2 separate regions of the Homo sapiens genome follow, and region 1 is linked to region 2. The links come from fine-mapping of genetic effects on gene expression. A gene starts in region 2. The other region holds a variant in brackets. All regions are shown on one strand. Distances are between the middles of the regions.

Region 1 (14,877 bases), 28 kb after region 2:
AAAGAAAACTACAGGCCAATATTCCTGATGAACATAAAAATTCTCAAAAAAATGTTAGCAAACCAAACTCAGTAACACATTAAAAAGATCGTTCACCATGATCAAGTGGGATTCATCCCAGGGATACAAATCAATAAACATAATGCATCATATTAACAGAATGAAGAATAAAAACCATATTATCATTTCAATACTTTCTGAAAAAGCATTTGACATAATTCAACATCTCTTTATGATAAAAACTCTCACCACCTAGGTATAGAAGGCATACACCTCAAAATAATAAAGTCCATATATGACAAACCCACAGCTAACATCATATTGATATGGGGAAAAACTGAAAGCCTTTCCTCTAAGATCTGGAATAAGACAAGCATATCCACTTTTACCACTTGTCTTCAACATAATACTGGAAATCCTGACCAGAGTAATTAGGCAAAAAGAAAGAAATAAAGGGCTTCCAAATTAGAAAGGAAGAAGCGAAGTTAGTCTTGTTTGCACATGACATGATCTTACATTTAGAAAAACCTAAAGACTCCACAAAAAAATTTTTAGAACTAATAAGCAAGTTCAGTAAAGTTGGTAGATACAAAATCAAAATAAAAAGTAGTAGCCCAGTCTTGCCAACATGATGCAACCTAGTCTCTATTAAAAATACAAAAATTAGCTGGATGTGGTGGTGGGCGCCTGTAATCCCAGCTACTGGGGAGGCTGAGGCATAAGACTCACTTGAACCCAGGAGGTGGAGGTTGCAGTGAGCCAATATTGCGCTACTGCACTCCAGCCTGGGCAATAGAGCGAGACTCAATCTCAAAAAAAAAAAAAAAAAAAAAAAAGCAGTAGCATTTATATATGCCAATAACACACAATCTGAAACATGAAAAAGAAATAAAGAAAGCAATCCCACTTGCAATAGCTTCAAATAATATATAACACCTAGGAATCAATTTAACCAAACAAGTAAAAGATTATACAAAGATAACTATAAAACACTGGTGAAAGACACTGAAGAGCATACACACCAAAAAATGGAAACATATTCCATACTCATGTATTGGAAGATTTAAAATTGTTAAAATGACAATACTACCCAAAGCAATTTACAGATTCAATGCAATCTCTATCAAAATGCCAATGACATTCTTCACAGAAATAAGAAAAGAAAATCCTAAAAGTTATACAGACCCACAAAAGACCACTAATAGTAAAAGTAATCCTGAGTATAAAGAACTAAGTGGAGACAGGCATGGTGGCTCACGCCTGTAATCCCAGCACTTTGGGAGGCTGAGGCGGGCAGATCACCTGAGGTCAGGAGCTCAAGACCAGCCTGGCCAACATGGTGAAACCCCGTCTCTACTAAAGATATAAAAATTAGCCAGGCATGGTGGCACACACCTATAATCCCAGCTACTGGGGAGGCTAAGGCAGGAGAATCACTTGAACTCGGGAGGCGGAGGCTGCAGTGAGCCGAGATCAAGCCATTGCACTCCAGCCTGGGCAACAAGAGTGAGACTCTGTCTTAAAAAAAAAAAAAGAACAAAGTGGAAGCATCATGCTAGCTTTCTTCAAAGTATACTACAAAGCTATAATAACCAAATCAGCATGGTACTGGCATAAAAACAGACACATAGGCCAATGGAGCAGAATAGAGAACACAGATTAAATCCATGCATTTATAACCAACTCATTTTCAACAAAGGTGTCAAGAATATACAATGGGAAGGCTGGGCGTGGTGGCTCTTGCCTGTAATCCCTGTACTTTGGGAATAGTTTAGACTCAAGCAATCTGCCCAGCTTGGCCTCCCAATACCTGCACTTTGGGAGGCTGAGTTGGGCAGATTGCTTGAGTCCAGGAGTTCGAGACCAGCCTGGGCAACATGGTAAAACCCTGTCTGTACAAAAACTTAAAAAAAATTAGCAGGCTGTGCTGAGGTGACTCAAGTCTGTAATCCCAGCACTTTGGGAAGCCGAGGCAGGCGGATCACAAGGTCAAGAGATCGAGACCATCCTGGCCAACATGGTGAAACCCCGTCTCTACTAAAAATACAAAAATTAGCTGGGCATGGTGGTACGTGCCTGTCGTCCCAGCTACTCGGGAGGCTGAGGCGGGAGAATCACTGGAACCCGGGAGGCGGAAGTTGCAGTGAGCTGAAGTTGCACCACTGCACTTCAGCCTGGGGAGAGAGTGATACTCCATCTGAAAAAAAAAAAAAAAAATTAGCAAAGCATGGTGGGGCACACGCGTAGTTCCAGCTACTCAGAAGGCTGAGTTAGGAAGATAACCCAAGTCCAGGAGGAGAAGGTTGCAGTGAGCCAAGATTGTGCCACTGCACTCTAGCCTGGGTGACAGAGTGAGACCCTGTCCCCCCACCACCCCAAAAAGAATATATAATGGGGAAAGGACAATCTCTTCAATAAATGGTGCTTGGGAAAGTGGATATACATAGGTAGAATAATAAAACTAGCCCCCTGTCTCTCACCATATACAAAAATCAACTCAAAATGGATTAAAGACTTAAATCTAAGACCTGAAACTATGAAATTACTAGAAGAAATCATGGGGAAAATGCTCCAGGACATTGATCTAGGCAAAGATATTTTTGTGTAAGATCTCAAAAGCACAGGCAACAAGACAAATGAATTACATCCAACTAAAAATCTTTTGTACATCAAAGGAAACAATAAAGTGAAGAGACAACCCATAGAAAATATTTGTAAACTTGGCTGGGCACAGTGGCCCACGCCTGTAATCCCAGCACTTTGGGAGGCCGAGCCGGGCGGATCACGAGGTCAGGAGATTGAGACCATCCTGGCTAACACGGTGAAACCCCGTCTCTACTAAAAATACAAAAAACTAGCCGGGCGCGGTAGTGGGTGCCTGTAGTACCAGCTACTGGGGAGGCTGAGGCAGGAGAATGGCGCGAACCCGGGAGGCGGAGCTTGCAGTGAGCCGAGATCGTGCCACGCACTCCAGCCTGGGCAACAGAGGGAGACTCCGTCTCAAATAAACTAAACTAAAATAAAATAAAAAAAGAAAATATTTGTAAACTCTCCCTCTGACAAGAAACTAAAAACCAATAATATAAGGCACTCAAACAACTCAATAGCAAAAAAAAAAAAAAAAAAAAAAAAAAAAAAAAAAAAATGGGCAAAAGATCCGAATACACATTTCTCAAATGAAGACATAAATATGGCCTACAGGCATATGAAAAAATGTTCAATATCATCAATCATCAGAGAAATGCAAATCAAAACCACAATGAGATATATCTCACCCCAGTTAAAAATGGCTTTAATTTAAAAAGACAGAAAATAACAGCTGCTGGCGAGGATGTGGAGAAAGGTGAACCCTTGTACGCTGTTGTTGGGAATGTAAATTAGTACAGCCAGTATGGAAAACTGTTGGAAGTTCCTCAAAAAAACTAAAAATAGAACTACCATGTGATCTAGCAATTCCACTACTGGATATATATTCAAAAGAAAGGAAGTCAATATATTGAAGAGATATCTGAGTTCCCATGTTTATTGCAACACTATTCATAAAAGCCATAATGTGAAACCGACCTAAGCGTCCATCAATGGATGAATGGATAAAGAAAATGTGGTGTATGTATATGTGCATACATATATATATATGCAATAGAATATTATTATTCAGCCATAAAAAAGAACACAAATCTTGTCATTTGTAGCATCACAGATGGAACTGAAAGTCATTACTGTAAGTGAAATAAGTCAAGCACAGAAACACAAATATCACACGTTTTCACTCACATGTGGGTGCTGATAAAGTGAATCTCATGAAGCCTGAGAAGGTTAGCAAAGGCCAGGAAGGGTAGTGGGGGGGAGGATAAAAAGAGGTTGATTAATTGGTACAAATATACAGTTAGGTAGAAAAAATAAGAACTAGTGTTCAATAGGTCACTAAGGTGACTATAGTCAACAATAATCTATTACACTTTTCAAAATAGCTAGAAGAACGTCTGTAATCCCAGCGCTTTGGGAGGCTGAGTCAGGAGGATGACTTGAGTCCAGGAATTCAAGACCATCCTGGGCAATATGGCAAGACCCTGTCTCTACAAAAAAAAAATTTTTATTTTATTATTTATTTATTTTTTTAATTGATTATTATTATACTTTAAGTTTTAGGGTACATGTGCACAATGTGCAGGTTAGTTACATATGTATACATGTGCCATGCTGGTGCGCTGCACCCACTAACTCGTCATCTAGCATTAGGTATATCTCCCAGTGCTATCCCTCCCCCCTCCCCCCACCCCACAACAGGCCCCAGAGTGAGATGTTCCCCTTCCTGTGTCCTTGTGTTCTCATTGTTCAATTCCCACCTATGAGTGAAAATATGCAGTGTTTGGTTTTTTGTTCTTATGATAGTTTAATGAGAATGATGATTTCCAATTTCATCCATGTCCCTACAAAGGACGTGAACTCATCATTTTTTATGGCTGCATAGTATTCCATGGTGTATATGTGCCACATTTTCTTAATCCAGTCTATCATTGTTGGACATTTGGGTTGGTTCCAAGTCTTTGCTATTGTGAATAATGCCGCAATAAACATACGTGTGCATGTGCCTTTATAGCAGCATGATTTATAGTCCTTTGGGAATATACCCAGTAATGGGATGGCTGGGTCAAATCTACAACTATCTGATCTTTGACAAACCTGACAAAAACAAGCAATGGGGAAAGGATTCTCTATTTAATAAATGGTGCTGGGAAAACTGGCTAGCCATATGGAGAAAGCTGAAACTGGATCCCTTCCTTACACCTTATACAAAAATCAATTCAAGATGGATTAAAGACTTAAACGTTAGACCTAAAACCATAAAAACCCTAGAAGAAAACCTAGGCATTACCATTCAGGACATAGGCATGGGCAAGGACTTCATGTCTAAAACACCAAAAGCAATGGCAACCAAAGCCAAAATTGACAAATGGGATCTAATTAAACTAAAGAGCTTCTGCACAGCAAAAGAAACTACCATCAGAGTGAACAGGCAACCTACAAAATGGGAGAAAATTTTCGCAACCTACTCATCTGACAAAGGGCTGATATCCAGAATCTACAATGAACCCAAACAAATTTACAAGAAAAAAACAAACAACCCCATCAAAAAGTGGGCGAAGGACATAAACAGACACTTCTCAAAAGAAGACATTTATGCAGCCGAAACACACATGAAAAAATGCTCACCATCATTGGCCATCAGAGAAATGCAAATCAAAACCACAATGAGATACCATCTCACACCAGTTAGAATGGCAATCATTAAAAAGTCAGGAAACAACAGGTGCTGGAGAGGATGTGGAGAAATAGCAACACTTTTACACTATTGGTGGGACTGTAAACTAGTTCAACCATTGTGGAAGTCAGTGTGGCTATTCCTCAGGGATCTAGAACTAGAAAAAAAAAATTTTTAATTACAAATTAGCTGGGCCTAGTGGTGCACACCTGTAGTCCTAGCCACTCAGGAGGTTGAGGCAGGATGATCTCTTGAGCCCAGGAATTTGAAATGGCAGTGAGCTGTGACTGTGCCACTGCATGCAGCCTGGGCTACAAAATAAGACTCTGTCTCTAAAAAATAAAAATAAATAGCTAGAAGAGAATAATTCAAATGTTCTTAGCATAAAGAAAATATAAATATTTAATGTGACAGATATACTAATTACTCTCATTTGATGTTTACACATTATATGAATGTATTCAATCATCACATACATACATATATTATGTATCAATAAAAAATAAAGATTATGATGGTTCACAAGGCAAAAAAAAGTTACCTATGTAAAACTCTTTGGCTTTATCTATGCGGGTCTATTTCTGGACTCTCCATTCTGTTCCATTGATCTATGTGTCTATCCCTTTACAAATAGCACACTGTTTTGATTAATGTAGCTTTAGAAAAAGTCTTAAAATCAGCCGGGCATGGTGGCTCACATCTGTAATCCCAGCACTTCGGGAGGCTGAGGCGGGTGGATCACGAGGTCAGGAGATCGAGACCATCCTGGATAACACGATGAAACCCTGTCTCTACTAAAAAAGAAAAAAAATACAAAAAATTAGCTGGGTGTGGTGGCGGGCGCCTATAGTCCCAGCTACTCGGGAGGTTGAGGCAGGAGAATGGCGTGAACCTGGAAGGCAGAGCTTGCAGTGGGCCGAGATCTCACCACTGCACTCCAGCCTGGGCAACAGAGCGAGACACCATCTCAAAACAAAACAAACAAACAAAACAAAAAAACAAAAACAAACACACTTTTTCTTTGATGTTGTTAAATTTTAAGGCCAGGCGCGGTGGCTCATGCCTGTAATCCCAGCACTTTGGGAGGCCGAGGCGGGCGGATCACAAGGTCAGGAGTTTGAGACCAGCCTGGTCAATATGGTGAAACCCCATCTCTACTAAAAATACAAAAATTAGCCAGGCATAATGGCGGGCACCTGTAATCCCAGCTACTCAGGAGGCTGAGGCAGGGGAATCACTTGAACCCGGGAAGCAGAGGTTACAGTGAGCTGAGATTGCGCCACTGCACTCCAGCCTGGGCAACAGAGTGAGACTCCACCTCAAAAAAAAAAAAAAAAAAAAAAAAGGCCGGGCGCCGTGGCTCACGCCTGTAATCCCAGCACTTTGGGAGGCCGAGGTGGGTGGATCATGAGGTCAGGAGATTGAGACCATCCTGGCTAACACAGTGAAACCCCATCTCTACTAAAAATACAAAAAATTAGCCGGGTGTGGTGGCGGGCATCTGTAGTCCCAGCTACTCAGGAGGCTGAGGCAGGAGAATGGCATGAACCTGGGAAGCGGAGCTTGCAGTGAGCTGAGATCGCGCCACTGCACTCCAGCCTGGGCGACAGAGCGAGACTCTGTCTCAAAATAATAATAATAATAATTTACTGTAATGTTTCTAGGTATGCATGTTTTTCCCCCTTTTTGGCCTTTATTCTTATCTATCCTATAAACTCTTTTCGTGGTGTTCTTTTGTCTTTAATCCTGGGACATTCTTGGTCATTCTTCAGATATTTTCTATATTAATTATTGTTTATTTTTCTCTCCTTCTGATACTCCTTCTCACACAAATGCAGGCAGAATGTTTCCATTTCTTCTTCCCGCTCCATAGCTAAGCTGTGTGTGTGTGTGTGTGTGTGTGTGTGTGTGTGTGTGTGTGTGTCTTCCCTCCCATCCCTTCCTGATGCCTTCTAGAGGTGTTCCTCTTTCTGATCTTTCTGCTTACTGATTCCTTATTTGACTGTATCCTTTGGCTCCGTCAGTGAGCCAAGATCATGCCATTGTACTCCTGCCTGGGTGACAAAGTGAGACCCTGCTTCAAATTAATTAATTAATTAATTAATTTTCCTAGTCCACCCAACTGTTTTATTTCATGTGTTGTGTTTACTATTCCCTGTGCACATCAGCTACCTTGGTGATAAAGTAAGTGAAGGAAAGACCAAAGGTCAGGCCCTGGCTGTTCTCCACCAGGCAAGTTTAGACAGGGCGTGGGGCAACACCCTCAGAGCATAGTACTTCTGGCAACACTCTCTGGGCTTGAACTCTTCCTATTTGTCAACCCTGTTTGTCATTGCTCCACCAGGGACCCTGCCTTCAGTTAACGTGGTATGCTTCTGATTTGGGTATGTTCTTTTCAAGAGAGTTGTTGGGATAAGGAGAGGGAGGGTGAGCACAGAACCCCAAAGGGGAGCCAATTTCCTACACCAGTTATTTTCTGCTCTCCATCCTAGTCTGGCTACCTATCCAAGCTTACATTGTCCTCCCAGGAGACAGGTGCTAGGTTTTTGGTTGTTTTTCCTGTCTCACAGTTTTGACAGGCTGATACATAAAAAGTGACCAATAAATATCTTCCCAATGTTGAATGAATGAATGAGCACACAGCGTACATAATTCTCAAAAAGTTTTAGGGAGTAAACTTAGGCGGAGTAATCCTTAGGCAGAGATAAGAACAGAATGAATTTTTGTCAGCAGGTTAATTTAAGTGTTGATTTGAGACTTGCAGAAGGTAATAAACAGTAGCTTATGGCACGAGGAATTCTGGTTGCAAAGAACTCTTGTTTGGCTAAGTATGTTTTTATAAGACCACACTGATAAATTATGGCAAGTATTAACTGGCCATAAAGGATCTTTCACAGCAGTTTGTAGCACACTTCTTGACTATCAGGACACTGGGTGTTAAAGCATAGAGTAACTACTTTAGAAAAACTCCAGACAGAGGATCAAGGTAAGGAAGGAACACTAACCAGGGTAAAGGAGAGAAAATTCCTCATTACAAGGAAGCATGATAACAAATGAGGAAGAAAGTAGAATAGGGATATTAAATTTTGAGGTTCATTTTTCTTCTTAGAAGTTACCCAAATGGGATGGTCAAATGCTAATTAAAACAAAATAAAATCAAGCAGGTTTACTAAGAGGGAGGTGAACTATAATGAAATTTTAATGCTTTGAATATTTATTTACACATTGTTTCAAGAAAAAAAAAATTAAAGCCAATGCAAGTGAGTAAATGAGAAACTCTTCTGAGGGCACTTTGAACTCCTGGGGAGATGCCTGGTGTAATTATTATTAGTTTTTTGTTCAGTAGGCTTTCAGGAAACCACTAATTAACCGATGCCACTGAACTCTTAATGAATGAAGCACTCTGAGGCTTGTTAAAAGTGCAGGAGTAGATTACTTAGTTTCAAGTTAGTAATAACTTGCTCCAGGGATCATCACGGGCATCTAGTATCCCTTCCGGACCACTCTCATTACGAGGCATCTGGGATGCCTGGTGTTCTCATAAATGGATACTCCAGGGAGGAGGTCAAGAGGGTCTTCTTACAAAGCCATCTTGAGAAGTTGTCAGTAAAGTTTTTTGGTCACCCTCTGGGGAAGGGAAAGGCAGCTCCTGTGTTCTCAATGAGCTTTGCTCCTATGGGACAGAGGTCCTCCACTGAGTAGGAACTGTTCCCCAAAGATGGTTTAGGGCAGAGATTGTCAAGAATTATCTCTTACAAACTGAACTATTTAAGGGTGAAATGTTAGAATGTCTGAGATTTACTTTAAAATACTCCAAAGTAAACCAACAACCCTCTAAATGCAAAAAATAAAAAAACTGGAGGGGATAAATGAAACAAGATTGGCAAAATGTTGGTGATTTTTAAGGCCTTGAGGGGGTTCATTATACTATTCTCTTTATAATTATATATATGTTTGATAACTTCCATAAGAAAAACCTCTAAGTGGGTACATATAAAAGGATTGTCCATTTCCTATATATATTATTTTAAATCAGTTATTACTCTATGTATTTATTAGAATTATTTCGGTTACAATGAACAGAAACCCCAATTCACATTGGCTTAAACAATAAAGGGAATGTATAGATTCACGTAGCTGAAAAGTACTGGGCAGTTCTAGGTATGAGGTGATGCTTGATCCTACAGCTCAATGATGTTACCAAGGACTGAATTTCTATCACTCTATTCTGCTTTCTATGATGCTGATTTCATCCTAAGGCTCATCTATGTCCCAGTTTCAAGAAGATTGTGAACAGCTACTGGGTTACATGCGTCATCCAGCAAGAGCTGGATTTGTTCTAGCATCTCCAAGAAAAGTCCCAATAGGACCAGCTTAAGGCCATATGCCTAACCCTGAGCCATTGTCTAACCAAGGAGGTAGAATCTTTCTCTTACTGAGGTTGGGTCACATTCTCCATTCCTGGAAACCAGGATCAGGAACCTCTCAGATCTCCAAATGGAATCAGGATTGACAGAGAGGAAAAAGGGTGAAACGGATGTTAGGAGGCAGTCAACAAATGTCTGCTACACTCCCCAAGTGTAAAGCTTCTAGTTGAATAGAACAGAGGGCACTGAACCATATCTTCTAAAACTGCAATAGAGGTGTGAATCTGTGGTCAGAGATCAGGGACCTGGATGGTCTGTAGAAGTGGAAGATTTCCTTAAGGCAGTGTCTGGTGTGGATGGGAATGGTTTTGAGAGGGTAATGTGCTTCATTTTGGAGAGTGTATTTACTTCCGAAAGAAAGACATCATTTTGCCTGGTGTAGGGTGAGTGCTGGGTTTGTTCTCGGCGTCCCAGGCTGTCATCATAAGAATGCACTTGAGCCAGGCACGGTGGCTCACGCCTGTAATCCCAGCACTTTGGGAGGGCGAGGCGGGCCAATCACGAGGTCTGGAGTTTAAGACCAGCCTGACAAACATGGTGAAACCCTGTCTCTACTAAAAATAAAAAAATTAGCCAGGCTTGGTGGCGCACATCTGTAATCCCAGCTACTCAGGAGACTGAGGCAGGAGAATTGCTTGAACCCAGGAGACAGAGCTTGCA[T/G]TGAGCCGAGATCGCACCACTGCACTCCAGCCTGGGCAACAGAGTGAGACTTTGCCTAAAAAAAAAAAAAAAAAAAGAATGCACTTGAGCACTCTTGCAGTATAATACCTCCATGCTTTGGAGATAATCTCCATCACTAATACTCACATCAGGCACCTACATGCCTCATTTAGCATGGCAATTTGAGAAATATTTTATATTTTTACATTTTTTCCCTTTTACACCAACAAAGCAAAAACATAGTGAAAAACATCTTAATATTTAAAAATATATACACTTAAGATATCTACCTATATGAGATATAGGTATCCATAGAGTTTATTCACATATGTATTAATATACAGGCATACCTTATTGTGCCTTACTTTGTGACACTTCACAGATATTGTATTTTTTATGAATTGAAGGTTTGTGGCAAGCCTGTGATGAGCAAGTCTATCGCTGCCATTTTTCCAACAGCACACACTCACTTCATATCTCCATGCCAGTATTTTTAAAGTGTATATATATATATATATATATATATATATATATATATATATATATTTTTAGACATAATGCAATTACACCCTTAAAGACTATACTACAGGCCAGGTGTGATGGCTCATACTTGTAATCCCAGCACTTTGGGAAGCCAAGGCAGGAGGATCACTTAAGCCCACGAGTTTGAGACCAGCCTGGGCGACATAGTAAGACCCCTATCTCTATTAAAAAATAAGTAAATAGGCTGGGCACAGTGGCTCAGGCCTGTAATCCCAGCACATTGGGAGGCTGAGGGTGGCTAATCGGTTGAGGCCAGGAGTTCAAGACCAGCCTGGCCAACATGGTGAAACCCCATCTCTACTAAAAATAAAAAAATTAGCTGGGCCTGGTGGCAGGTGCCTGTAATCCCAGCTACTTCAGAGGCTGAGACAAAAGAACCACTTGAACCTGGGAGGCAGAGGTTGCAGGGAACTGAGATCATGCCATTGCACTCCAGTCTGGGTGACAGAGTGAGGCTCTGTCTCAAAACATAAAACACAATACAATACAATACAAAACTGAAAAATAAAAAAGACTACAGTACAGTGTAAATATAACTTTTTTATATGTACTGGAAAACCAAAAAATTTGTGTGACTCACTTCATTCTGATATTCATGTTATTGCATGGGCCTGGAACCAAACCTGCAATATATTTGAGGTAAGCATATATATGTATATGTAAGTATGTATATGTATGTATGTACATATATATACGTGTGTGTGTGTGTAGGAGCTAGGTGTGATGGCATGCACCTGCAGTCCCAGATTTGGGGAGGTTTAGGCAGGAGGATCACTTGAGTCCAGGAGTTCGAGGCCAGCCTGGGCAACATATCAAGACTCCCATCTCTAACATATTTATAAAACAAACATACGTAGAGAGAAATCCATTACAACACTGAGCAGTTTAGTTAGATATTTTTCTCATGGTTGCTTGGTCAATTCAGTAGAGTGAGTACTTTGATTTGGTCCCAGAACATGAGGCTGATGCATCATAATGTGCTTTCTTCAACTCAATGGCCTTTGCCCATCTATTAACTCTGCTATGCAGGTGAATTGCCTGAGCTCAGGAGTTCGAGACCAGCCTGGGAAACACGTTGAAACCCTATCTCTATTAAAACACAAAAAATTAGCCAGGTGTGGTGGTGCACACCTGTGGTGCCAGCTACTTGGGAAGCATGAGGCCCGAGAATTGCTTGAACTGGGGAGGAGGTTGCAGTGAGCCGAGACCGGGCAACTGCACTCCAGCCTGGGGGATAGAGTGAGGCTCTGTCTCCAAAAAATAAAATAAAAAATTTTTTTTCCTAACTCTTCTGTGTAACAAGCTGTTGTTCCCTATGCTACTAAATATTTTAGGAATTTTTCTAATGCTACAAATATTTAATTTTGTCTTTGTGAACAGTAAAGATCTTTTACTTTTTGATTGTTTCAAATGCTTTGAAATCATTCAGTTGATTGTACAAATCATGGGCAAATGCTTAGTGTGAAAATTATGTTGGAAGTATACCTATTGGTTTTAAAAATTCAACAGTAAGGATCAGCAGCTACAACACTAGAAAGATGGCAGAGCAAAAGCAAAGAAAAATCCCTTTGGTTCCAGAAAATCTCCTGAAAAAGAGGAAGGCTTATCAAGTCCTCAAAGCCACTCAGACAAAGCAGGCACTTTTGGCAAAGAAGGAGCAGCGGAAAGGAAAAGGGCTCAGGTTTAAGGGACTGGAATCATTCCTACATAATTCCTGGTGGCAGAAATGTGACAAGGTGTGTCTCAGATGACTAGAAATGAAACCTCGTGCCTTGGAATTGCCAGATAAACATTCCTTGGCCTTTGTTGTATGCAGCAAAAGGATTGTTGGCGTGAGTCTACTGGTGCAGACAGCCATTGCAAGACTTCATCTTAAGAAAATTTTTAGTGGTGTCTTTGTAAAAGTCACCCCCCAGAACCTAAAAATGCTGCGTATAGTGGAACCTTATGTGATCTGGGGATTTCCAAATCTGAAGTCTGTCCGGGAATTCATTCTGAAACATGGACAAGCCAAGGTCAATAAGAACACCATCCCTCTGACAGACAACACAGTGATTGAGGAGCACCTGGGGAAGTTTGGTGTCATTTGCTTGGAAGACCTCATTCATGAAATTGCCTCCCAGTGAAGCATTTCCAGGAGATCTCATGGTTCTTTTGCCCTTTCCACCTCTCAGTGGTCCATCATGCTACCAAAAATACAGTGGGCTTCCTCAAGGAGATGGGCACATCTGGCTATTGGGGTGAATGCATCAATCAGCTCATCTGCCAGCTGAACTAGACCCAGGTGCCAAACTGCAGTAAATTTTTATCAATGAAGTGGAAGCATGTGTTTTTGTTTTTTTGAGATTTTTTTTATCAAGTATCTTCAAAGACTATTTCCTGCTTTATCTTCAAAAACTGGAAAGGAAGGGTTAAAAAAAAAGACAGTAGCTTAGGTTCATGGCAAGTACCTCTCATCACAGTCCAGTTCCAAGGAAAAATTCCAGCATTTTCTACATTGGCTGCCTCCTTGTCGGCGGAAGTAGTCCTGCTTTGTTGAATCTTCTATCCTAGGGTTTAATGTTGGTGAATGAGTAACTCTAGCATTTGTACAAGGCTTCCTAAGACTCCGGGAGCAGTCGACCAAGCCCAGGGACATAATTGAATCTGGAGATTCCTGGGTCCTTGTTTTGAAAAAGACTTGAAATACACATAGGAAGAAAGGCCCAAAAATAAATGTTAACTTGTCAAAAAAAAAAATTTCAACAGTAAGCTTTCTTAGTTTCTCCTAAAAGGTGCATCATATCCAAACACTGTAAAGCTTGATTTTTAATGTCAGCGCTAAGATTGGTGCAACTCAAGATTCATTATCTGAACTGTGGCAGAAATGAAAAGTGATTCAGATAGTTTTCTTAAATCTGAAATGCAATGCAAAAGGTAGCTTGCTTAATTCCTTTCACAGGAGGGATTCAGACTAGGCGAACTGCTTTAGGCAAAGTACACGCATTATCAGATTTGGGTGAATCGTACAGGAGAAAAGCCTTACAGACGCTCGACTGAAGAAGGCATTTCAGTACAGCCCAACTACCATTGCCCAGTGGAGGATTAATACATGAAGGAAACCTAGGCATGTAGCAAATTTGGTTGATGTTTCAAACAGTGCCCTCATCTCGGTCCCCAGTGAACCCACACAAGAAAAAGTGACAGGTGTAGAAAAGATTCAGAAACAAAAGTATGCTTTTTGTTTGGGTGGATTTCTACTGGGACAAACAGTAGAAACGTGAAGTATGGGCAAAACTTTGTTTCCCACTTGAGGGGACTTCAGAGAGTCTACATAGGAGAGAATTCAGTCCACAGAGAATGTGGGGAGAGCTTCAGCAAGTATTTATGCACTAGAAAACCTCCAAGAGAAGAGTAACAGGGCAGCCTTCATCACACATGACAGGGAGGAGTGACCAGGAAATGCTGGAGTAAATGCTTCAGTGGCATGACTCAACAAATATTTGGAAAATCCTTTATGAACTCCCATCTTTTGTTACCAATTGTCCATTTGGATAAAAGAGGCTGCTGGGCGTTCTTCCTCAAACTTACCTGGGAAATTAAACACTGTTCTCAGTAGTTCCAAAAGTTAACAGAAACCCTAGGAGTTTTAGTTTTGAGATTTACTTTGATTCTAAGCCCCTCCTGTTCTTCCCCTCCAGTTAAAAGATATCTGAGGTTGGGCATGGTGGCTCATGCCTGTAATCTCAGTACTTTGGGAGGCCAATGCAGGAGGATCACTTGAGCTTAGGAGTTCAAGATCAGCCTGGGCAACATAGCAAGACCTCATCTCTACTAAAAGTAAAAAAATAATAACCCAGGCATGGTGGCACGTGCCTGGAGTCCCAGATACTCAGAAGGCTGAGGTGGGAGGATTGCTTGAGACTGGGAGATCGAGGCTGTGGTGAGCCCCAGCCTGGGCAACAGAGACCCTTGTCTCAAAAATAAAATATATCTGAGGTTCTC
Region 2 (15,595 bases):
CGCCCTTCGCTAATTGACAGCAATTTCATTAATGAAGCCCGCCTTGCGTCATATGCTGAGACCAATCACAATGCCTGAGAACCCAGGGCCCGGATCCCGCTGGGCATGCCATCCTGTTTTACGCGTTAGGTGAGAGTAGCCCTGATAGAAAACGTGGCGCTTGCTGTGTGCCCTGCGTAATTGTAAACATTTACACACTAACTCATACTTACAGCAACCCTACTCAGTCAGTTATATTACCATTTTCATCTTCCAGACGAGGAAGCCAAAACAGAGTTTAAGTGACTTTCGTTGACTAGAACTCGTATCTAATCCAGTGGCTTTTTTTCCCCCCACTCTAAGTTGTTTTTATTTCTTAATATTAAGTAAGTACTGCAAAACGTTCTCACTTAAAACTGAAGTCTCCACGCCAGTAATCCCAGCATTTTGGGAGGCCGAGGCGGGAGGATCACTTGAGTCCAGGAGTTCGATGCTGCAGTGAGAGGTAATTGCCACTGCACTCCAGCCTGGGCGGCTGAGCGAGATTGTCTCAAAATAAATAAATAATAAATAAATACAAATGATTAACAAAATATATTCATACTTTGCCTCTGAAATTACACTCCCTCCCTAGAGAAAATAACTGTTACTGAGGCAGAGGAATAGGGTCTGGAGGCAGGAAACCTAACTGATTCACGCTGACTTCCTAGAACTAAATCAAAAGGAAAACCCCAACTTTCCCTTTCCCCACCTAAGTAAGGAAAGGACCCACTGAAAGGACTGGAGGCTACTCCCTTTACAAACTCCATCACCTCTTCTGCGTGGCAGACAAAAATTTGAAAGTATCAGATGCTTGCATAGCGTGTAACCTTTGTAACTTCACTTCAGCCTCTGGTTGCACAAAGCAACCTAAGGGAACCTAGGGCCGATTACGGGCCACTACTTCATTTACATAGGGTGTACACCAAGTGACCAATAGGAAACCTGTAGAGGGTGTTTAAACCCCAGAAAAATTCTGGCACATGCCTGTTGAGCCCCTATGCTCTGCGGGCTGCCACCTTGTGGAGTGTACTTTTGTTTTCAATAAATCTGTGCTTTTGTTGCTTCATTTTTTTCCTTGCCTTGTTTGTGTGTTTTGTCCAGTTCTTCGTTCCAAACGCCAAGAACCTGGACACCCTCCACTAGTAACATTACTAGTGTGTATATCTTTCTGGTTCTTAATATATAATTTTTTTTACATTTACTAATTCTTGTCGGTTTTTTCCATTTATATATATAATTTTTGTTTTTTTCTTTTCGTTTATATATATATATAATTTTTTAAAGCTGCATTTAGGCATGTACCACCATGCATATTCTTTTTAAAATGTTTTTCCATGCTGCTCCCCACCTCCCCCCACCACAATATATATAATCGACCATTCCTCTTTTGGTGGACATACAAATACTTTTCTAATTTTCACGTGTGTGTGATTCCGGATTGGGTATTCTGGGTATATTTTGAAGAGGGAGCTACTAGATTGAGATGTGGAGTGTGAGAGAAAGAAGAGTGGAGGATCATACTAAGGCTTCTATGTAGTCTTTCTGCCTTCAGTCTTGCCCCCCTTCATTCATCCATCATTTATGAAGGCCCTGGTAGCACAAAGGAGTAGTACCTCATCAGGATATAAATACAGGGAGTGGGATGTGAAATAGGTTGATGACACTTCTAAGAAAAGTATGCCATCTTTGATTAAGAATAACCATGGAGGAGTTTTTTAAACACATGCATTTCTTATGTGGATTATCTATTTTGATTCCTACAATGTTCCTGCCACCTGTTATAGTCATTTTACAGATGATGAGACAGAGTGCTATAAAGAGCCACTGACTACCCTAACTAATTAGTTGCAGAGTGCACCCAAATACTCAAGTTCTTGACTCCCAGAGTGTTGAACTTTCTGAGGCACCTTGCTGCCTTTCTATTCAGAGGGCAGGGTAGTAGATGACTAAATGGACAGAAAAGAGAGAGAGAAAGAGAAAGCAGAGCCTGAGTGTGGGAAAAAGCAAGGGCAGAGCACTGCTTTGCATGTCAGATATAAGTATATACATATATATACACACATATGTATTTCTCTTTCTCTCTGTGGCCTGTGGGTTGGATACCCTTATTATAAACCATTAAATAAAACAGAAAACCTTAATTGCATAAGATAGAACCAAATAAATGAACAAATTGAGTTTAATTAGTAGCAGGATATTTACATAGTTTCAAAGTACTTCCCCATAAGACACTTATTAATTACAAAGAGGGAAACAATGGGAAAGCTGGTCAACACAATCTTCATTTAGTGATCCACGTAACACCATTAGAAATGAAAACAACTGAAATATACACCCCCTGATAGGACACAATGAGAAGAATGCAACCTCCCATCTGTGATATTCCTGCCAAAGATGCTAACCTGAGTCTATATGTGAAGAAACTTCAAACCCAAATGGAGACATTGTCTACCAGATAACTGGCTAACAATCTTTTATAGTGTGGCAATCATGAAAGTCAAGAAAAAAACTGAAGAACCATCTCAGACTGACAAAGACTAGAGACATGACAACTAAATGCAATGTGTGATTGTGAAGAAAATTCTTTCGCTATGAAAGGCATCGTTGGGACAGTTGGCAAACATTGAACGGGGTCTGCAGATTAGATAATGAAATGTATTAATGTTCATTAAAAAAAATTTTTTTTTGAGATGGAGTCTCACTCTGTTGCCCAGGCTGGAGTGCAGTGGCATGATCTTGGCTCACCGCAGCCTCTACCTCCTGGGTTCAAGCAATTCTCTTGCCTCAGCCTCCCGGGTAGCTGGGATTATAGGCATGTCCCACCATGCCCAGCTACTTTTTGTATTTTTAGTAGAGATGGGGTTTCACTATGTTGGCCAGGCTTGTCTTGAACCCCTGACCTCAGGTGATCTGCCCACCTCGGCCTCCCAAAGTGCTAGGGTTACAAGTGTGAACCACTGTACCTGGCCCATTTTTCTAATTTTGATGGTTATATTGTGGCTCTGTAGGATAATGTCCTTGTTTGTTGAAAACACACCACAAGATATTTGGGGAAGACAGGGTGTCAGGTTGCTAACTTACTCTCAAATAATTGGAGGTCAGGGGAAGTCTTTGTTTCATGCTTCCAACTTTTCTGTAAGTTTGCGATTGTTTTTACAAAAAAGAGTACGCACAGCTTTAGAGTCAAGACGATTATGCTTTGATTCCCTACCCTACCAAAGCATGATCTTGGGCAAGTTTCCTTTTATGCTGCAGTGTCCTCATCTTAAAATGAGGACTAGCATATGCAGTAAGCCGAGATCACGCCACTGCACTCTAGCCTGGGCGGCAGAGCGAGACTCTGTCTCAAAAAAAAAAAAAAAAAAAAGAGGACAAGCATAATAGCAGGTGGCCCATGGATTGTGAGGATTGAATGAGTGGAAGTGTGTAGAGTTTAGATCCTCATCTAGCAAATGGTGAATACTCAGTACACTTAGCCACCGTTGGTCAAATACACTAGACCTTTTTGCAAAGTCATTAATAGAGCTTCCAAATTAGTCTATTATTTAATTATGTATCTATTTGAGACAGAACCTCACTGTGTCTCCCAGGCTGGAGTGTTGTGATGGAATCACGGTTCGCTGTAGTCTTGAACTCCTGGGCTCAAACGTTCCTCCTGCCTCACCATCCTGAGTAGCTGGGGATATAGGCAAGCACCACTACACTCAGCTAATTTTTAAATTTCTAGTAGAGACGGGATCTCAGTATGTTGCCCAGGCTGGTGTTAAACTCCTGGGTTCAAGCGATCCTCCCTCCTCGGGCTCCCAAAGTGCTGGGATTACGGGTGTGTGAGCCACTGCGTCCTACCATAGTCTCTAATTCAGAGCTCACATACTAAAGTGTATATGCAGCAAGCCAAAGTCACTTTTCAACTTCTATTTCTTCCCGGTTCCTTGATTCTAATCTTTCCTAATCTTTCCTGGACTTGAGCCTGAAGGCTGAGAAGAATGGAAAAGGATTGACTGTCTTCATTGGCAGCTTCAGAATTTGCTCATTTGAGGTATTCAGGCAGCCTTTGATACCTTAAACGGAAAGGTATGGGATCCAGACAGACTCTGAGAAGGGCTCTATGCGATGGGCTCTCAAACTCACTTAAATCCAGTGAGCAGATGAGCATATTCAAATGCTTTTCATTTCTATTTTACTAAGGTTGGTGAGTCTTTCATAGGTCTTGGTGGTTTTAGTGTTTTGTTGTTGTTTGTTTGTTTGTTTGTTTTTTAGACAGAGTCTCATGTTGGCCAGGCTGGTCTTGAACTCCTGACCTCAAGTGATCTGCCTACCTCATTCTCCCAAAGTGCTGGGATTACAGGCGTAAGCCATTGTGCCCGGCCCTTGGTGGTGGTTTTGTCTGTCATTTCCTGAATTTCCAACTGAACAAGACACCAAACATATTTTTTTCCTGGACACCTAGAAATAGGACTCCAAACCCTCAATAACAAGGAGCTTGCTTTATATTTGCTTCTTTTCCTCCCAAATTTTGACCTTGTTTCATGAACACCATTGAGAATGGAACATAAGCGTATGTGTGTTGACGAAGTTATATGCGATCCCTGTGATGTATTCATTTCCTCACCATAGCCAGTCAGCTTGTTCTTCTTCCTCTAATTCCCTGTGTCTTACCACACCCAGAACTCTGTGTTAGTTACAAAATGTCCAATTTTTTCCATATGGAGGCTCTACAGCACTCATATGTCTCAGGAATACCTGTCCATTTTCTTCCTATTTCCTCCCAAGTTATTTCACAACTTAAATGAATTGACTGGAGGATGCAACTGTTCAGTCTCTTGGTACTGTTCTCATAACGTAATCAGCTGGCATTTTGGTTTATATAACAGCTTTAGGAACTTGGTCATTGTGAACCTACTTCTTGAGAACTTGACCTAATCTGAGTGTACTGATCAATGAAAATGTTGAGCCTGGCCATGTGCAATGACTCACACCTGTAATCCCAGCATTTTGGGAGGCTGAGGAGGGTGAATCGCTTGAGACCAGGGGTTTGAGACCAGCTAGCCAACATGGTGAAACCCTGTCTCCACCAAAAAAAAAAAAAAAAATTGGCCTGGCATGGTGGCATACACCTGTAATCCCAGATACTCAGGAGGCTGAGGCACAAGAATTGCTTGAACCCAGGAGACAGAGGTTGCAGTGAGCTGAGATCGCCACTGCACTCCAGCCTGGGCAACCGAGCAAGGCTCTGTCTCAAACAAAACAAAACAAAACAAAACAAAACCAGTGTTGAGCCTGCAAGACTCTGGACTTTAATAAATTCGCCAAGATAATGTTAACAGTTGTCTACTTCTGGAGACGTATTTGAGTATTGCTGTATGAGGAACTGGCAAAATGGCTTTGATCTGCTATTGGAAAAACAAACTCATGACAGGACAGTATGATTAGATGTCTTTGGAAGGAATTATGGTAATGTGGAAAAGGGAACATTTATCATTGTTTGTTCAATGCTGTCCAAGGGATGGGATGACCCCAAAGTGGCAAACATGAAGACGGTCCATTTGACAAATTTAGTTCTTAGCAAGATAAAGGAGGACTCATGAAGCTTATTAATTATATTTGCTAAACACTTATTGAGTATCTACTATGTATAAGGCATGTGTTTCAAAATTATGGGGACACAAAGCCAAAGCCCCTTTTGAACTAGTTCTAAAACCTATTGATTCCCTTTTCTATGGTAATGTAGTTGTCATGCAACTTTCTTATATTAACCTAGCTTCTCTGTCTGGGAAAATAGTAAATGAATCGTGGTAACAGGTGGGGATCCCTTTGGCAATTCTAGGAATGTGCAGAATCACAAATTGGCATTCTGATCCCAACATGTGAGTTCCTGAAAGATGAGTAATTAATTGTGTGCTGAACTGATTGCTGAATTTTAGGAACTGCAGGGCTTCAAGACTAGATCTTGAGGCAGAGAACATACTTTATGGATGGATGATCTTTCCTGGGGTCTTAAATTTGCATAAGGAATCTTAGGACATTCCATTATCCACTGACCAGACTAGCATACCCAAATGCTGGTAAGACATCTGATGTCTGGGACTTTTGGATGGGATGATTTCAATAAGAGAGTAGCAAGGGACCCTCTTTGGCTAGAATCAAAAGGCAAATGACCTTTTTGTTTTGTTTTGTTTTATTTTTGGAGACAGAGTCTTGCTCTTGTCACCCAGGCTGAAGTGCAGTTGTGCAATCTCAGCTCACTGCAACCTTAGTTCACTGCAACCTCCACCTCCCGGGTTCAAGCAAGTCTCCTGCCTCAGCCTCCCAAGTAGCTGGACTATAGGTGTGCACCACCACACCTGGCTAATTTTTGTATTTTTGGTAGAAATGGGGTTTCACTATGTTGGCCAGGCTGGCTCAAACTCCTGACCTCAGGTGACCCACCCACCTCAGCCTCCCAAAGTGCTGAGATTACAGGCATGAGCCACTGTGCCCAGCTGCAAATGACCTTTTTAATCTTTTCTTTCTTTTTTTTTTTTTTTTTTTTTTTTTTTTGAGATGGAGTTTCGCTCTTATTGCCCAGGCTAGAGTGCAGTAGTGCAATCTCGTCTCACGGCAACCTCCACCCTCCAGCTTCAAATGATTCTCCTGCCTCAGCCTCCCAAGTCGCTGGGGTTACAGGCACCCACCACCATGCCCAACTAATTTTTTTCATATTTTTAGTAGAGACGGGGTTTCACCGTGTTGGTCAGGCTGGTCTCGAACTGCTGACCTCGTGATCCACCCACCTCGGCCTCCCAAAGTGCTGGGATTACAGGCGTGAGCCACCGTGCCTGGCTTAATCTTTTATTATTAAATAATAGATTAGTAGAAGAGAAATTGGAATATAGGCATAAGGGAGAGGGTAAACAAGATGATGGAGAGATATATGGATGGAAAGTATGGACAGATATACTACATTATTATTATTGTTATTATTATTATTATTGAGACGGAGTTTTGCTCGTTACCCAGGCTGGAGTGCAATGGCACGATCTCAGCTCACCACAACCTCTGCCTCCCGAGTTCAAGCGATTCTCCTGCCTCAGCCTCCCGAGTAGCTGGGATTACAGGCATGTGCCACGATGCAAGGCTAATTTTGTATTTTTAGTGGAGACAGTGTTTCTCCATGTTGGTCAGGCTGGTCCCGAACTCCTGACCTCAGGTGATCCACCCGCCTCGGCCTCCCAAAGTGCTGGGATTACAGGTGTGAGCCACTGCACCCAGTGGTATACTGCATTATTAAGAAGAGACAGGCCAGGTGCGGTAGATCACACCCATAATCCCAGCACTTGGGGAAGTCAAGGCAGGAAGATTACTTGAGGCCAAGAATTCTAGACCAGCCTGGGCTGTTAACAGAGTGAGACCCCATCTGTAAAAAATAAAAATAAAAATTAGTTAGGTGTGGTAGCATGTGCCTATAGTCCCAGCTACTCAGAAGACTGAAGGATTGCTTGAGCCCAGGAGTTGAAGGCTGCAGTGAGCTAAGATCATGCCACTCTACTTCAGCCTGGGCAACAGAGCAAGACTCCAACTCTTAAAAAAAATGAAGAAGAGACAAAAAGAGGTAGGCAAAGATAATGACAGATAGGGTAAAAACATGAATTGTTTGGGTCTTCATATGAAGTTAATAATACATGGCTTGATTTTATGGAATTATAGTAACATTATGTAAGATACTGCAAGTGGAGGTGCTTTGCTTAGAAAAGTACAGAATTCTGCAGAAATATAAGGCATATTAAATAACATGTGGGCAACAGAGACAGAGACAGTGAGACAGGTCTGTCACAGGTCAATAACCTCTGAGCCCTCAACAACATGTCTCCCCTGCTATCGGTAGTCCACAGTAGGATTTTTGGTAAATAAGTGTAGAACATTACGAATAACACTAACCATGTTCCCAACAGCTTAGGGCTGTCAGCTTAGGGCTGTCAGGAACATGCCTTGGTTTTACCGGAATTAGTATTCCTCATGTTCACCTGGCCAGAGAGAGTTAATGAGAAACGCATGTAGAGATGAAGACGCAATAAATAACGAAGGAGTGTTCTCTCAGCCAACTTCTCTTCCTTTCCCCAGCAACCTCCTCAGTGCGCCCTTCACTTCCATGTTCCGCAGCGTGTAGATGAGGGGATTCACCATGGGTGTGACCAACGAGTAGAACAGGGAAATGAACTTGCCCTGGTCCTGTTTGCTGTTCTTGGCCGGAAGCAGATACCCATAGCTGGCTGAGCCATAGAAGAGGAACACCACCAGCAGATGGGAGAGGCACGTATTGAACGCCTTTCGCCTCCCCTCTGCAGAGCGGATTTTCAGCACTGCCTGAGCAATGAGGCAGTAGGAGATCACGATGATGCTTAGTGGGACTGCAGTGAAGAAGGTGCAGACACCATTGAGCACAGCCTGGTTGAGACTTGTGTCGCCACAGGCCAGTTTGATCATGGCAGGCACCTCGCAGAGGAATCCCTCCACCCTCCGGTGCCCACACAATGGGAGCTGCAGAGTGAATGTTGACTGGATCACAGAGTTGCCCAAGCCACCCAGGCAGGCAATCACAGCCAGCAGCCAGCAGAGCTGGGGGTTCATGATGGCGGTGTAGCGGAGGGGCCGGCACACTGCCACGTAGCGGTCAAATGCCATCACCACCAGCAGGATGCACTCGGTGGCCCCCAGCCAAAGGAAGACATAGAGCTGGGTTATGCAGCCACCATAGCTGATGGTCTTGCCTGGTCCCCATAAATTGATCAGCATTTGGGGGACTGAACTAGTAGCGAAAGCAAGGTCCAAGGAGGAGAGGTTGCTGAGGAAGAAGTACATGGGTGTATGGAGCCGGGCCTCCAGGCGGGAAAGCAAGATGATGGTTGAGTTCCCAAGTAGGGTCAGCAAATAGGAGAAGAGGATGGCTATAAAAAAGATCATCTCCAGCTGGGGATGGTCTGATATGCCCATCAGAACAAAGCCCTGCAAGGAGCTATCATTCACCCCGTCCATCACTGGTTGTCTTCAGTCACTTGATGAATTCATTTAGCGCAAGCTGCTGGAAGAAAAGTCAAGAAAAAGCTGTTGGATGAGGTGGATTTGCATCAGGAACGGTCTAATAGTTCTCTGGGATCCATAGTTAAGTAACAACCTATTTTTTGTTTGTTTTTTGAGACAGAGTCTCTCACTGTCACCCAGGTTGGAGTGCAGTGGCACAATCTCAGCTCACTGCAACCTCCTTCTCCCTGGCTCAAGCAATCCTCTTGTCTCAGCCTCCCAAGTAACTGTGACCACAGGTGTGTGCCACCACATCCAAATAACTTTTGTATTTTTTGTAGAGATGGGGTTTTGCCATGTTGCCCAGGGTTGTCTCCAACTCTTGGGCTCAAGTGATCCATCTGCCTCAGCCTCCCAAAGTGCTGGGATTACAGGCATGAACCACTGCACCTGGACTCCAACTTACTTTTTAAGATTGCAAGCTTTTTTTTTTTTTTTGAGACAGAGTCTCGCTCTGTCACCCAGGCTGGAGTGCAGTGGTGCAATCTCGGCTCATTGCAACTTCCGCCTCCCAGGTGCAAGCAATTCTCCTGCCTCAGCCTCACGAGTAGCTGGGACTACAGGCATGCACCACCATGCCTGGCTAATTTTTGTTTTAGTAGAGACGGGGTTTCACCATGTTGGCCAGGCTGGTCTCGAACTCCTGACCTCGTGATATGCCAGCCTCAGCCTCTCAAAAAGCTGGGATTACAGGTGTGAGCCACCGTGCGTGGCCTAGATTTCAAACTTCTGTTGTAATCCCCATCTACTGTTGGTTACACACCGAATGGAAAAGTTGATTCCATCAGAATGTCAGGTATGAGCTAACACGGAAATGAAGGAAGTGCCTCATGATGACAAAACCAAAAGACCCCAAGAACTGAAGAGCCCTTCAGTTCAGAACAATGGCTATGACGGGATAGAGAGAGTTGACCATTAGAATTAGATGTGAAAGTTCTCAAAAACTTTCAGTCAGACTGAAATTTCAGTCAGGCATGGTGGCTCACACCTGTAATCCCAGCATTTTAAGAGGCTGAGGTGGGAGGATCTCTTGAGCCCCAGTGTTCAAGGCAGCAGTGAGCCCCTGTACTCCAATGCCTGAGTGACAGAGGGAGACCCTATCTCTTGAAAACAACAGCAACAACACATTTCCCCAGCCAAGATTCTGATACGCTCAGGGAAGGGGGGAAGCAGACACATTGTATTTGGAAAAGCTCCCCAGAATTTTCTGTTAAATTTCCTCTGCTCTCTTCTACATCCCTCCCCTCTGAGTTTTACCTCAGTGCTGGATCTAGAAAGATGATGTTTGAGGAATAACATGATGAATCTATAAAGTCACAGAAATAATGGAAAGAGTAGATACAGACTTATGCTCCAAATACAGAAGCTGGGAATGTACAATTTAAGAGGAGGTCAATGTAGAGCAAACAAAACTTCACTTAAGCTTAAATAAGTTTAGGTGGAAAAGGCAAAAGATATAAACAGAGGTTACACAAAAAGGGGTTAAAATAGTTAATGGGTATTCATAATTAGTAAGGGAAATTAGAAGATTTACAGAGGAGATCCCTCTTTTGAGGTATATAACTACTGTGTCCACGTCTAAATCATCAAATAATTCTTAACATCTCATGAGACCGGGTACAGTGGCTCACGCCTGTAATCCCAACACTTTGGGAGGTCAAAGTGGGCAGATCACTTGAGGCCAAGAGTTTGAGATCAGCCTGGCCAACATGGTGAAACCCCGTCTCTACTAATAATACAAAAAATTTGTCGGGCATGGTGGCGGGCGCCTGCAGCCCCAGCTACTCAGGAGGCTGAGGCAGCAGAAACACTTGAAACAGGGAGGCGGAAGTTGCAGTGAGTTGAGATTGCACTACTACACTTCAGCCTGGGCAACAGAGCTAGACTCTGTCTCAAAAAAAAAAAAAAAAAAGAAAAGAAAAGAAAAACAAACAAACAAACAAAAAACCCATCTCATGAACAAAAAAATCAGCTCTTGTTAATAATGGGCCAATCACCATCCCCTTTCCTTGGCCAGGATCTCAACTTTTCTGAAGATCATAAACCACAGCCCTTCCCCTTCCTTCCTTCCTTCCTTCCTTCTTTCTCTTTTTTTGAGATGGAGTCTAGCAGTGTCACCCAGGCTGGAGTGCAGTGGCGTGATCTCAGCTCACTGCAACCTCTGCCTCCCAGGTTCAAGCGATTCTCCTGCCTCAGCCAACCAAGTAGCTGGGATTACAGGAGTGCACCACCACGCCTGACTAATTTTTGTATTTTTAGTAGAGGCGGGGTTTCACCATGTTGGCCAGGCTGGTCTTGAACTCCTGGCCTCAGGTTATCTGCCTACCTTGGCCTCCCAAAGTGTTGGGATTACAAGCATGAGCTACCATTCCCGGCCTACTTATTCTTTTTTTTTTTTTTTTTTTTGAGACGGAGTCTCGCTCTGTCACCAGGCTGGAGTGCAGTGGCGGGATCTCGGCTCACTGCAACCTCCACCTCCTGAGTTCAAGCAATTCTCCTGCCTCAGCCTCTCAAGTAGCTGGGACTACAGGTGCACACCACCATCCCCAGCTCATTTTTGTGTTTTTAGTAGAGATGGGGTTTTGACCATGTTGGCCAGGATGGTTTCGATCTCTTGACCTCGTGATCTGCCCGCCTCAGCCTCCCAAAGTGCTGGGATTACAGGCGTGAGCCACCGCGACCGGCCTACTTATTCTTTTCATCTAGGACTTAAGAGAGCTGAGGAACTGAGTTACTAACCGGATAATCAGCTCATCTTTCTTTTCAGAAGTTCTTCCTGAAACCCATTCTACTACCTCCTGCCAGTTCAGGTGCTTGTTCCCTTGTGTCCCTTTAGGGCAAAGAAATAGACAGGGCCGGGCGCAGTGGCTGACGCCTGTAATCTCAACACTTTGGGAGGCCGAGGCAGGCAGATCACTTGAGGTCGGGAGTTCGAGACCATCCTGGCCAACATGGTGAAACATGTCTCTACTAAAAATAAAAAAAAATTATCCGGGCGTGGTGCTACATGTCTGTAATCCCAGCTACTCAGGAGGCTGAGGCAGGAGAATCACTTGAACCCAGGAGGCGGAGTTTGCAGTGAGCTGAGATAATGCCATTGCACTCCAGCCTGGGCAACAAGAGTGAAACTCTACCTCAGAAAAAAAAAAAAAAAAAAGAAAGAAAGAAACAGACAGAAAGACACTGCTCATCTTCTTCCAAAGTTGTTTGGTCTGTGGGGGGCTGGTATTAGACAAAGTGAACAGGGATTTTTCCCCTCCCCAAATCTTAGAATTCAAGAACTAGAAATGGGGGAGTTTGAATCTTAGAAAAAGTCAATTAAGGATGAATGAAAGAAAAAAATACATAGTTAATAGTAAATTTATGTAAATTATTACTTCTAAGAGACATCAGTAAGTTTAAAAACATTCAAACTCATAAGTTTAAAAACATTAAAATTTAAAAACATTAAAACATCATAAGTTTAAAAACATTAAAATTTGGCCAGGCATGGTGGCTCGCGCCTGTAATCCCAACACTTTGGGAGGCCGAGGCGGGTGGATCACGAGGTCAGGAAACCAAGACCATCCTGGCGAACAAAGTGAAACCCCGTCTCTACTAAAAATACAAAAATTAGGCGGGCGTGGTGGTGGGCGCCTGTAGTCCCAGCTACTCGGGAGGCTGAGGCAGGAGAATGGCTTGAACCTGGGAGGCGGAGCTTGCAGTGAGCCAAGATTGCACCACTGCACTCCAGCCTGGGCGACAGAGGGAGACTCTGTCTCAAAAAAAAATTAAAATTTAAATTTAACAAACACAGATACAATGCATGATTAAGGAAATCTAGGCCACTCGGAAGGGACTTTAACTTCTGATGCTTGCATCAGGGAAAACAATCAAGCTCCTTTAAAATGTATTTTCTAATTCTGCTGTCAAAGAAACAATTCTGGCTGAATGGACCATGGGCTGAGCCAAGGTGGCAGTTCTAATAAGCCCAGGATCTTACAAAATACGAAAAAAAAAAAAAAAAAAGACTAAATGCTTGGCAATACATCAAATAAGTACAAAAATTCAACAGCACAAATTTAGACTGGAAAAGGCTAGAGAAGCACAAGTATCCCAGGAGTAGCTCTCAAGGTTACATCTCTGCAAGCTGAAGGCAACTTGCAATGGGTGTCCCAGAGAGAAAAATGAACAAAAGGAGGTTCCATGTAAGGGCTGGGGAGTAAGCTTTCTGCTGTGTACTGTATTAGCAATTCCTTATCCGAGGGTCTTACCTGATTTGCCTAGCATTTTAAAAAGGATAATGGAGTACACAGATTTTTAGAGAACAGGGAGAAGGAGGACATAGGTCCTATGAAGTATGGCCAAGACGGGAGACTTGCTTAGGAGGAAATAGTTAAAGGGAGAAGTGGGTTTTTTACTTCCAATTATTTTTTTCTCAGACCATTCTCCATAACAAATTTTCTTCCAATTAATGTCTTCACTATTATGAGGAGATTTTAAAAATGTGTGCTTCATAAGCAGGTGCTCTCCTTCTCCTTCTCTATGGAAAGCAAAAAAAATAGGGAGGCTGAGGCAGGAGAATTGCTTGAACCTGGGAGGCAGAGGCCGTGGTAAGCCGAAATCATGCCACTGCACTCCAGCCTGGGCAACAGAGCAAAACTCTGTCTCAAAAAAAAAAAAAAAAAAAGAAAAAGAAAAAGAAAAAAAGAAAAAAGACTTAAATTCAGAGCAGGAGAAATTACGATAGGGCATTTTGAGGTGTTGGTGTGATAAAATATTGATTAAATTCTTTGGCAAGAGAAAAATAAGGTATGCTTAGAGATTTGCCTGCCTGAAGGCACTGAATATATCTTAAGTTCTTTTTTTTTTTTTTTTTTTTGAGTCAGGGTCTCACTGTGTCACCCAGGCTGGAGTGTGCAATGATAGCTCACTGCAGCCTCAACCTCCCAGGCTGAAGCAATCCTCCCGCCTCAGCCTCTCAAAGTGTTAGGTTCACAGGCATGAGCCACTGCACCCAGCCTATACCTGAAGTCTTTTATGATCCTTTTCTGCTTGAGGACTCTGTTCCCAGAACAGAGTTGTGCATGCAAAAGGGCTTTTGTTTGTTTGTATGTTAAGAATTTCCCAGCTTCTCTCCTGGACCATTCCAGAGATGACTTTTGTGAAGGGGTTCTTAAAATTGTTGTTTTAAAACTTCCCTTTGGGGCCGGGCACGTGGCTCAAGCCTGTAATCCCAGCACTTTGGGAGGCCGAGGCGGGAGGATCACAAGGTCAGGAGATCGAGACCATCCTGGCTAACACAGTGAAACCCCGTCTCCAGTAAAAATACAAAAAATTAGCCGGGCACGGAGGCAGGCGCCTGTAGTCCCAGCTACTCGGGAGGCTGAGGCAGGAGAATGGCGTGAACCCGGAAGGTGGAGCTTGCAGCAATCCAAGATCGCGCCACTGCACTCCAGCCTGGGCGACAGAGCAAGACTCCATCTCAAAAAAAAAACACAAAAAAAACAAAAAAACAAAAAAACCAACCAACCAACCAACCAAACAAAAAATTTCCCTTTGGGCTGGGCGCGGTGGCTCACGCCTGTAATCTCAGCACTTTGGGAGTCCGAGGCAGGTGGATCATCTGAGGTCAGGAGTTCGAGACCAGACTGGCCAACATGGGAAACCCCCTCTCTACTAAAAATACAAAAATTAGCCGGGCGTGGTGGCAGGCGCCTGTAATTCCAGCTGCTTGGGAGGTTGAGGCGGGAGAATCGCTTGAACCTGGAAGGCGGTGGTTGCAGTGAGCCGAGATCTTGCCATTGCACTCTAGCCTGGGCGACAGAGAGACTCCACCTCAAAAAAAAAAAAAAAAAAAAGATTCCCTTTTACAGTTTGAGTATTTTTCCTTCCTGACTCTTCTTGCTGACAGAGGTCACAGACCTCTGTATAAACGGGCTTGGGCTCTAATACCATGTCACCGCCAACCTTTCGCCTAAAGGAAGAAGCCATAAAACAGTGAATTTTTTTTTTGAGACGGAATCTCGCTTTGTTGCCCAGGCTGGAGTGCAGTGGCACGATCTTGGCTCACTGCAACCTCCGCCTCCTGGGTTCAAGCTATTCTCCTGCCTCTGCCTCCCTAGTAGCTGGGATTACAGGCATGTACCACCACGCCTGGCCCCCAAAATCAGTGCCTTTAAAAAGCTATTTAACACTCTCCCTTTTCTCTCTCCTTCTCTGTCTCTGCTATTTTCCTTTTCCCATCTTTTTTCCCCCCTGTTCGCCTCTCTCTCTTATATCCTGGATTCTTTAATAATCAGTCTAGGGATTGTTTATGGAAATGTACCTTTGGCTTTGAGATTCCCCCACATCCATCCTCTGTCTCCATGCTTAGTGAATCAAGGAGAGAGGGCAGGCATGGGACCGAGAGGGAGGCTGTGCTGCGCTCCTCCTGTCCGCGAACTGGGGCCACAGCTTTTAACCTCGGGGCTCTTCTGGCCCTGGAGTAGCACTGGGTCGCAGTTGGAAGCCTGGCTTGCTGTGGCTGGCTCTGCAG

Evidence for each region. PIP is the estimated chance that this variant, and not a neighbour inherited with it, causes the effect.
Region 1: its variant is the best candidate, but not a certain one, in a credible set for the expression of OR2C1 in whole blood (TOPMed, PIP 0.88).

Annotation. Positions count from the first base shown.
Region 1 is chr16:3,321,480-3,336,356 of GRCh38, reverse strand. It overlaps a transcript of ZNF75A not described here, a transcript of OR2C1 not described here and the pseudogene RPL7L1P19. Among named protein-coding and RNA genes, the nearest start is that of ZNF75A, 23 kb to the right of the region's middle. The variant T/G (reference allele first, on the strand shown) is at 10,351.
Region 2 is chr16:3,349,379-3,364,973 of GRCh38, reverse strand. It overlaps OR2C1 (olfactory receptor family 2 subfamily C member 1), which reads right to left and starts at 9,085. Exons shown (of 1, transcript NM_012368.3): 1 at 7,668-9,085. The coding sequence starts at 9,033. The coding sequence ends at 8,095. RefSeq lists an enhancer at 1-686.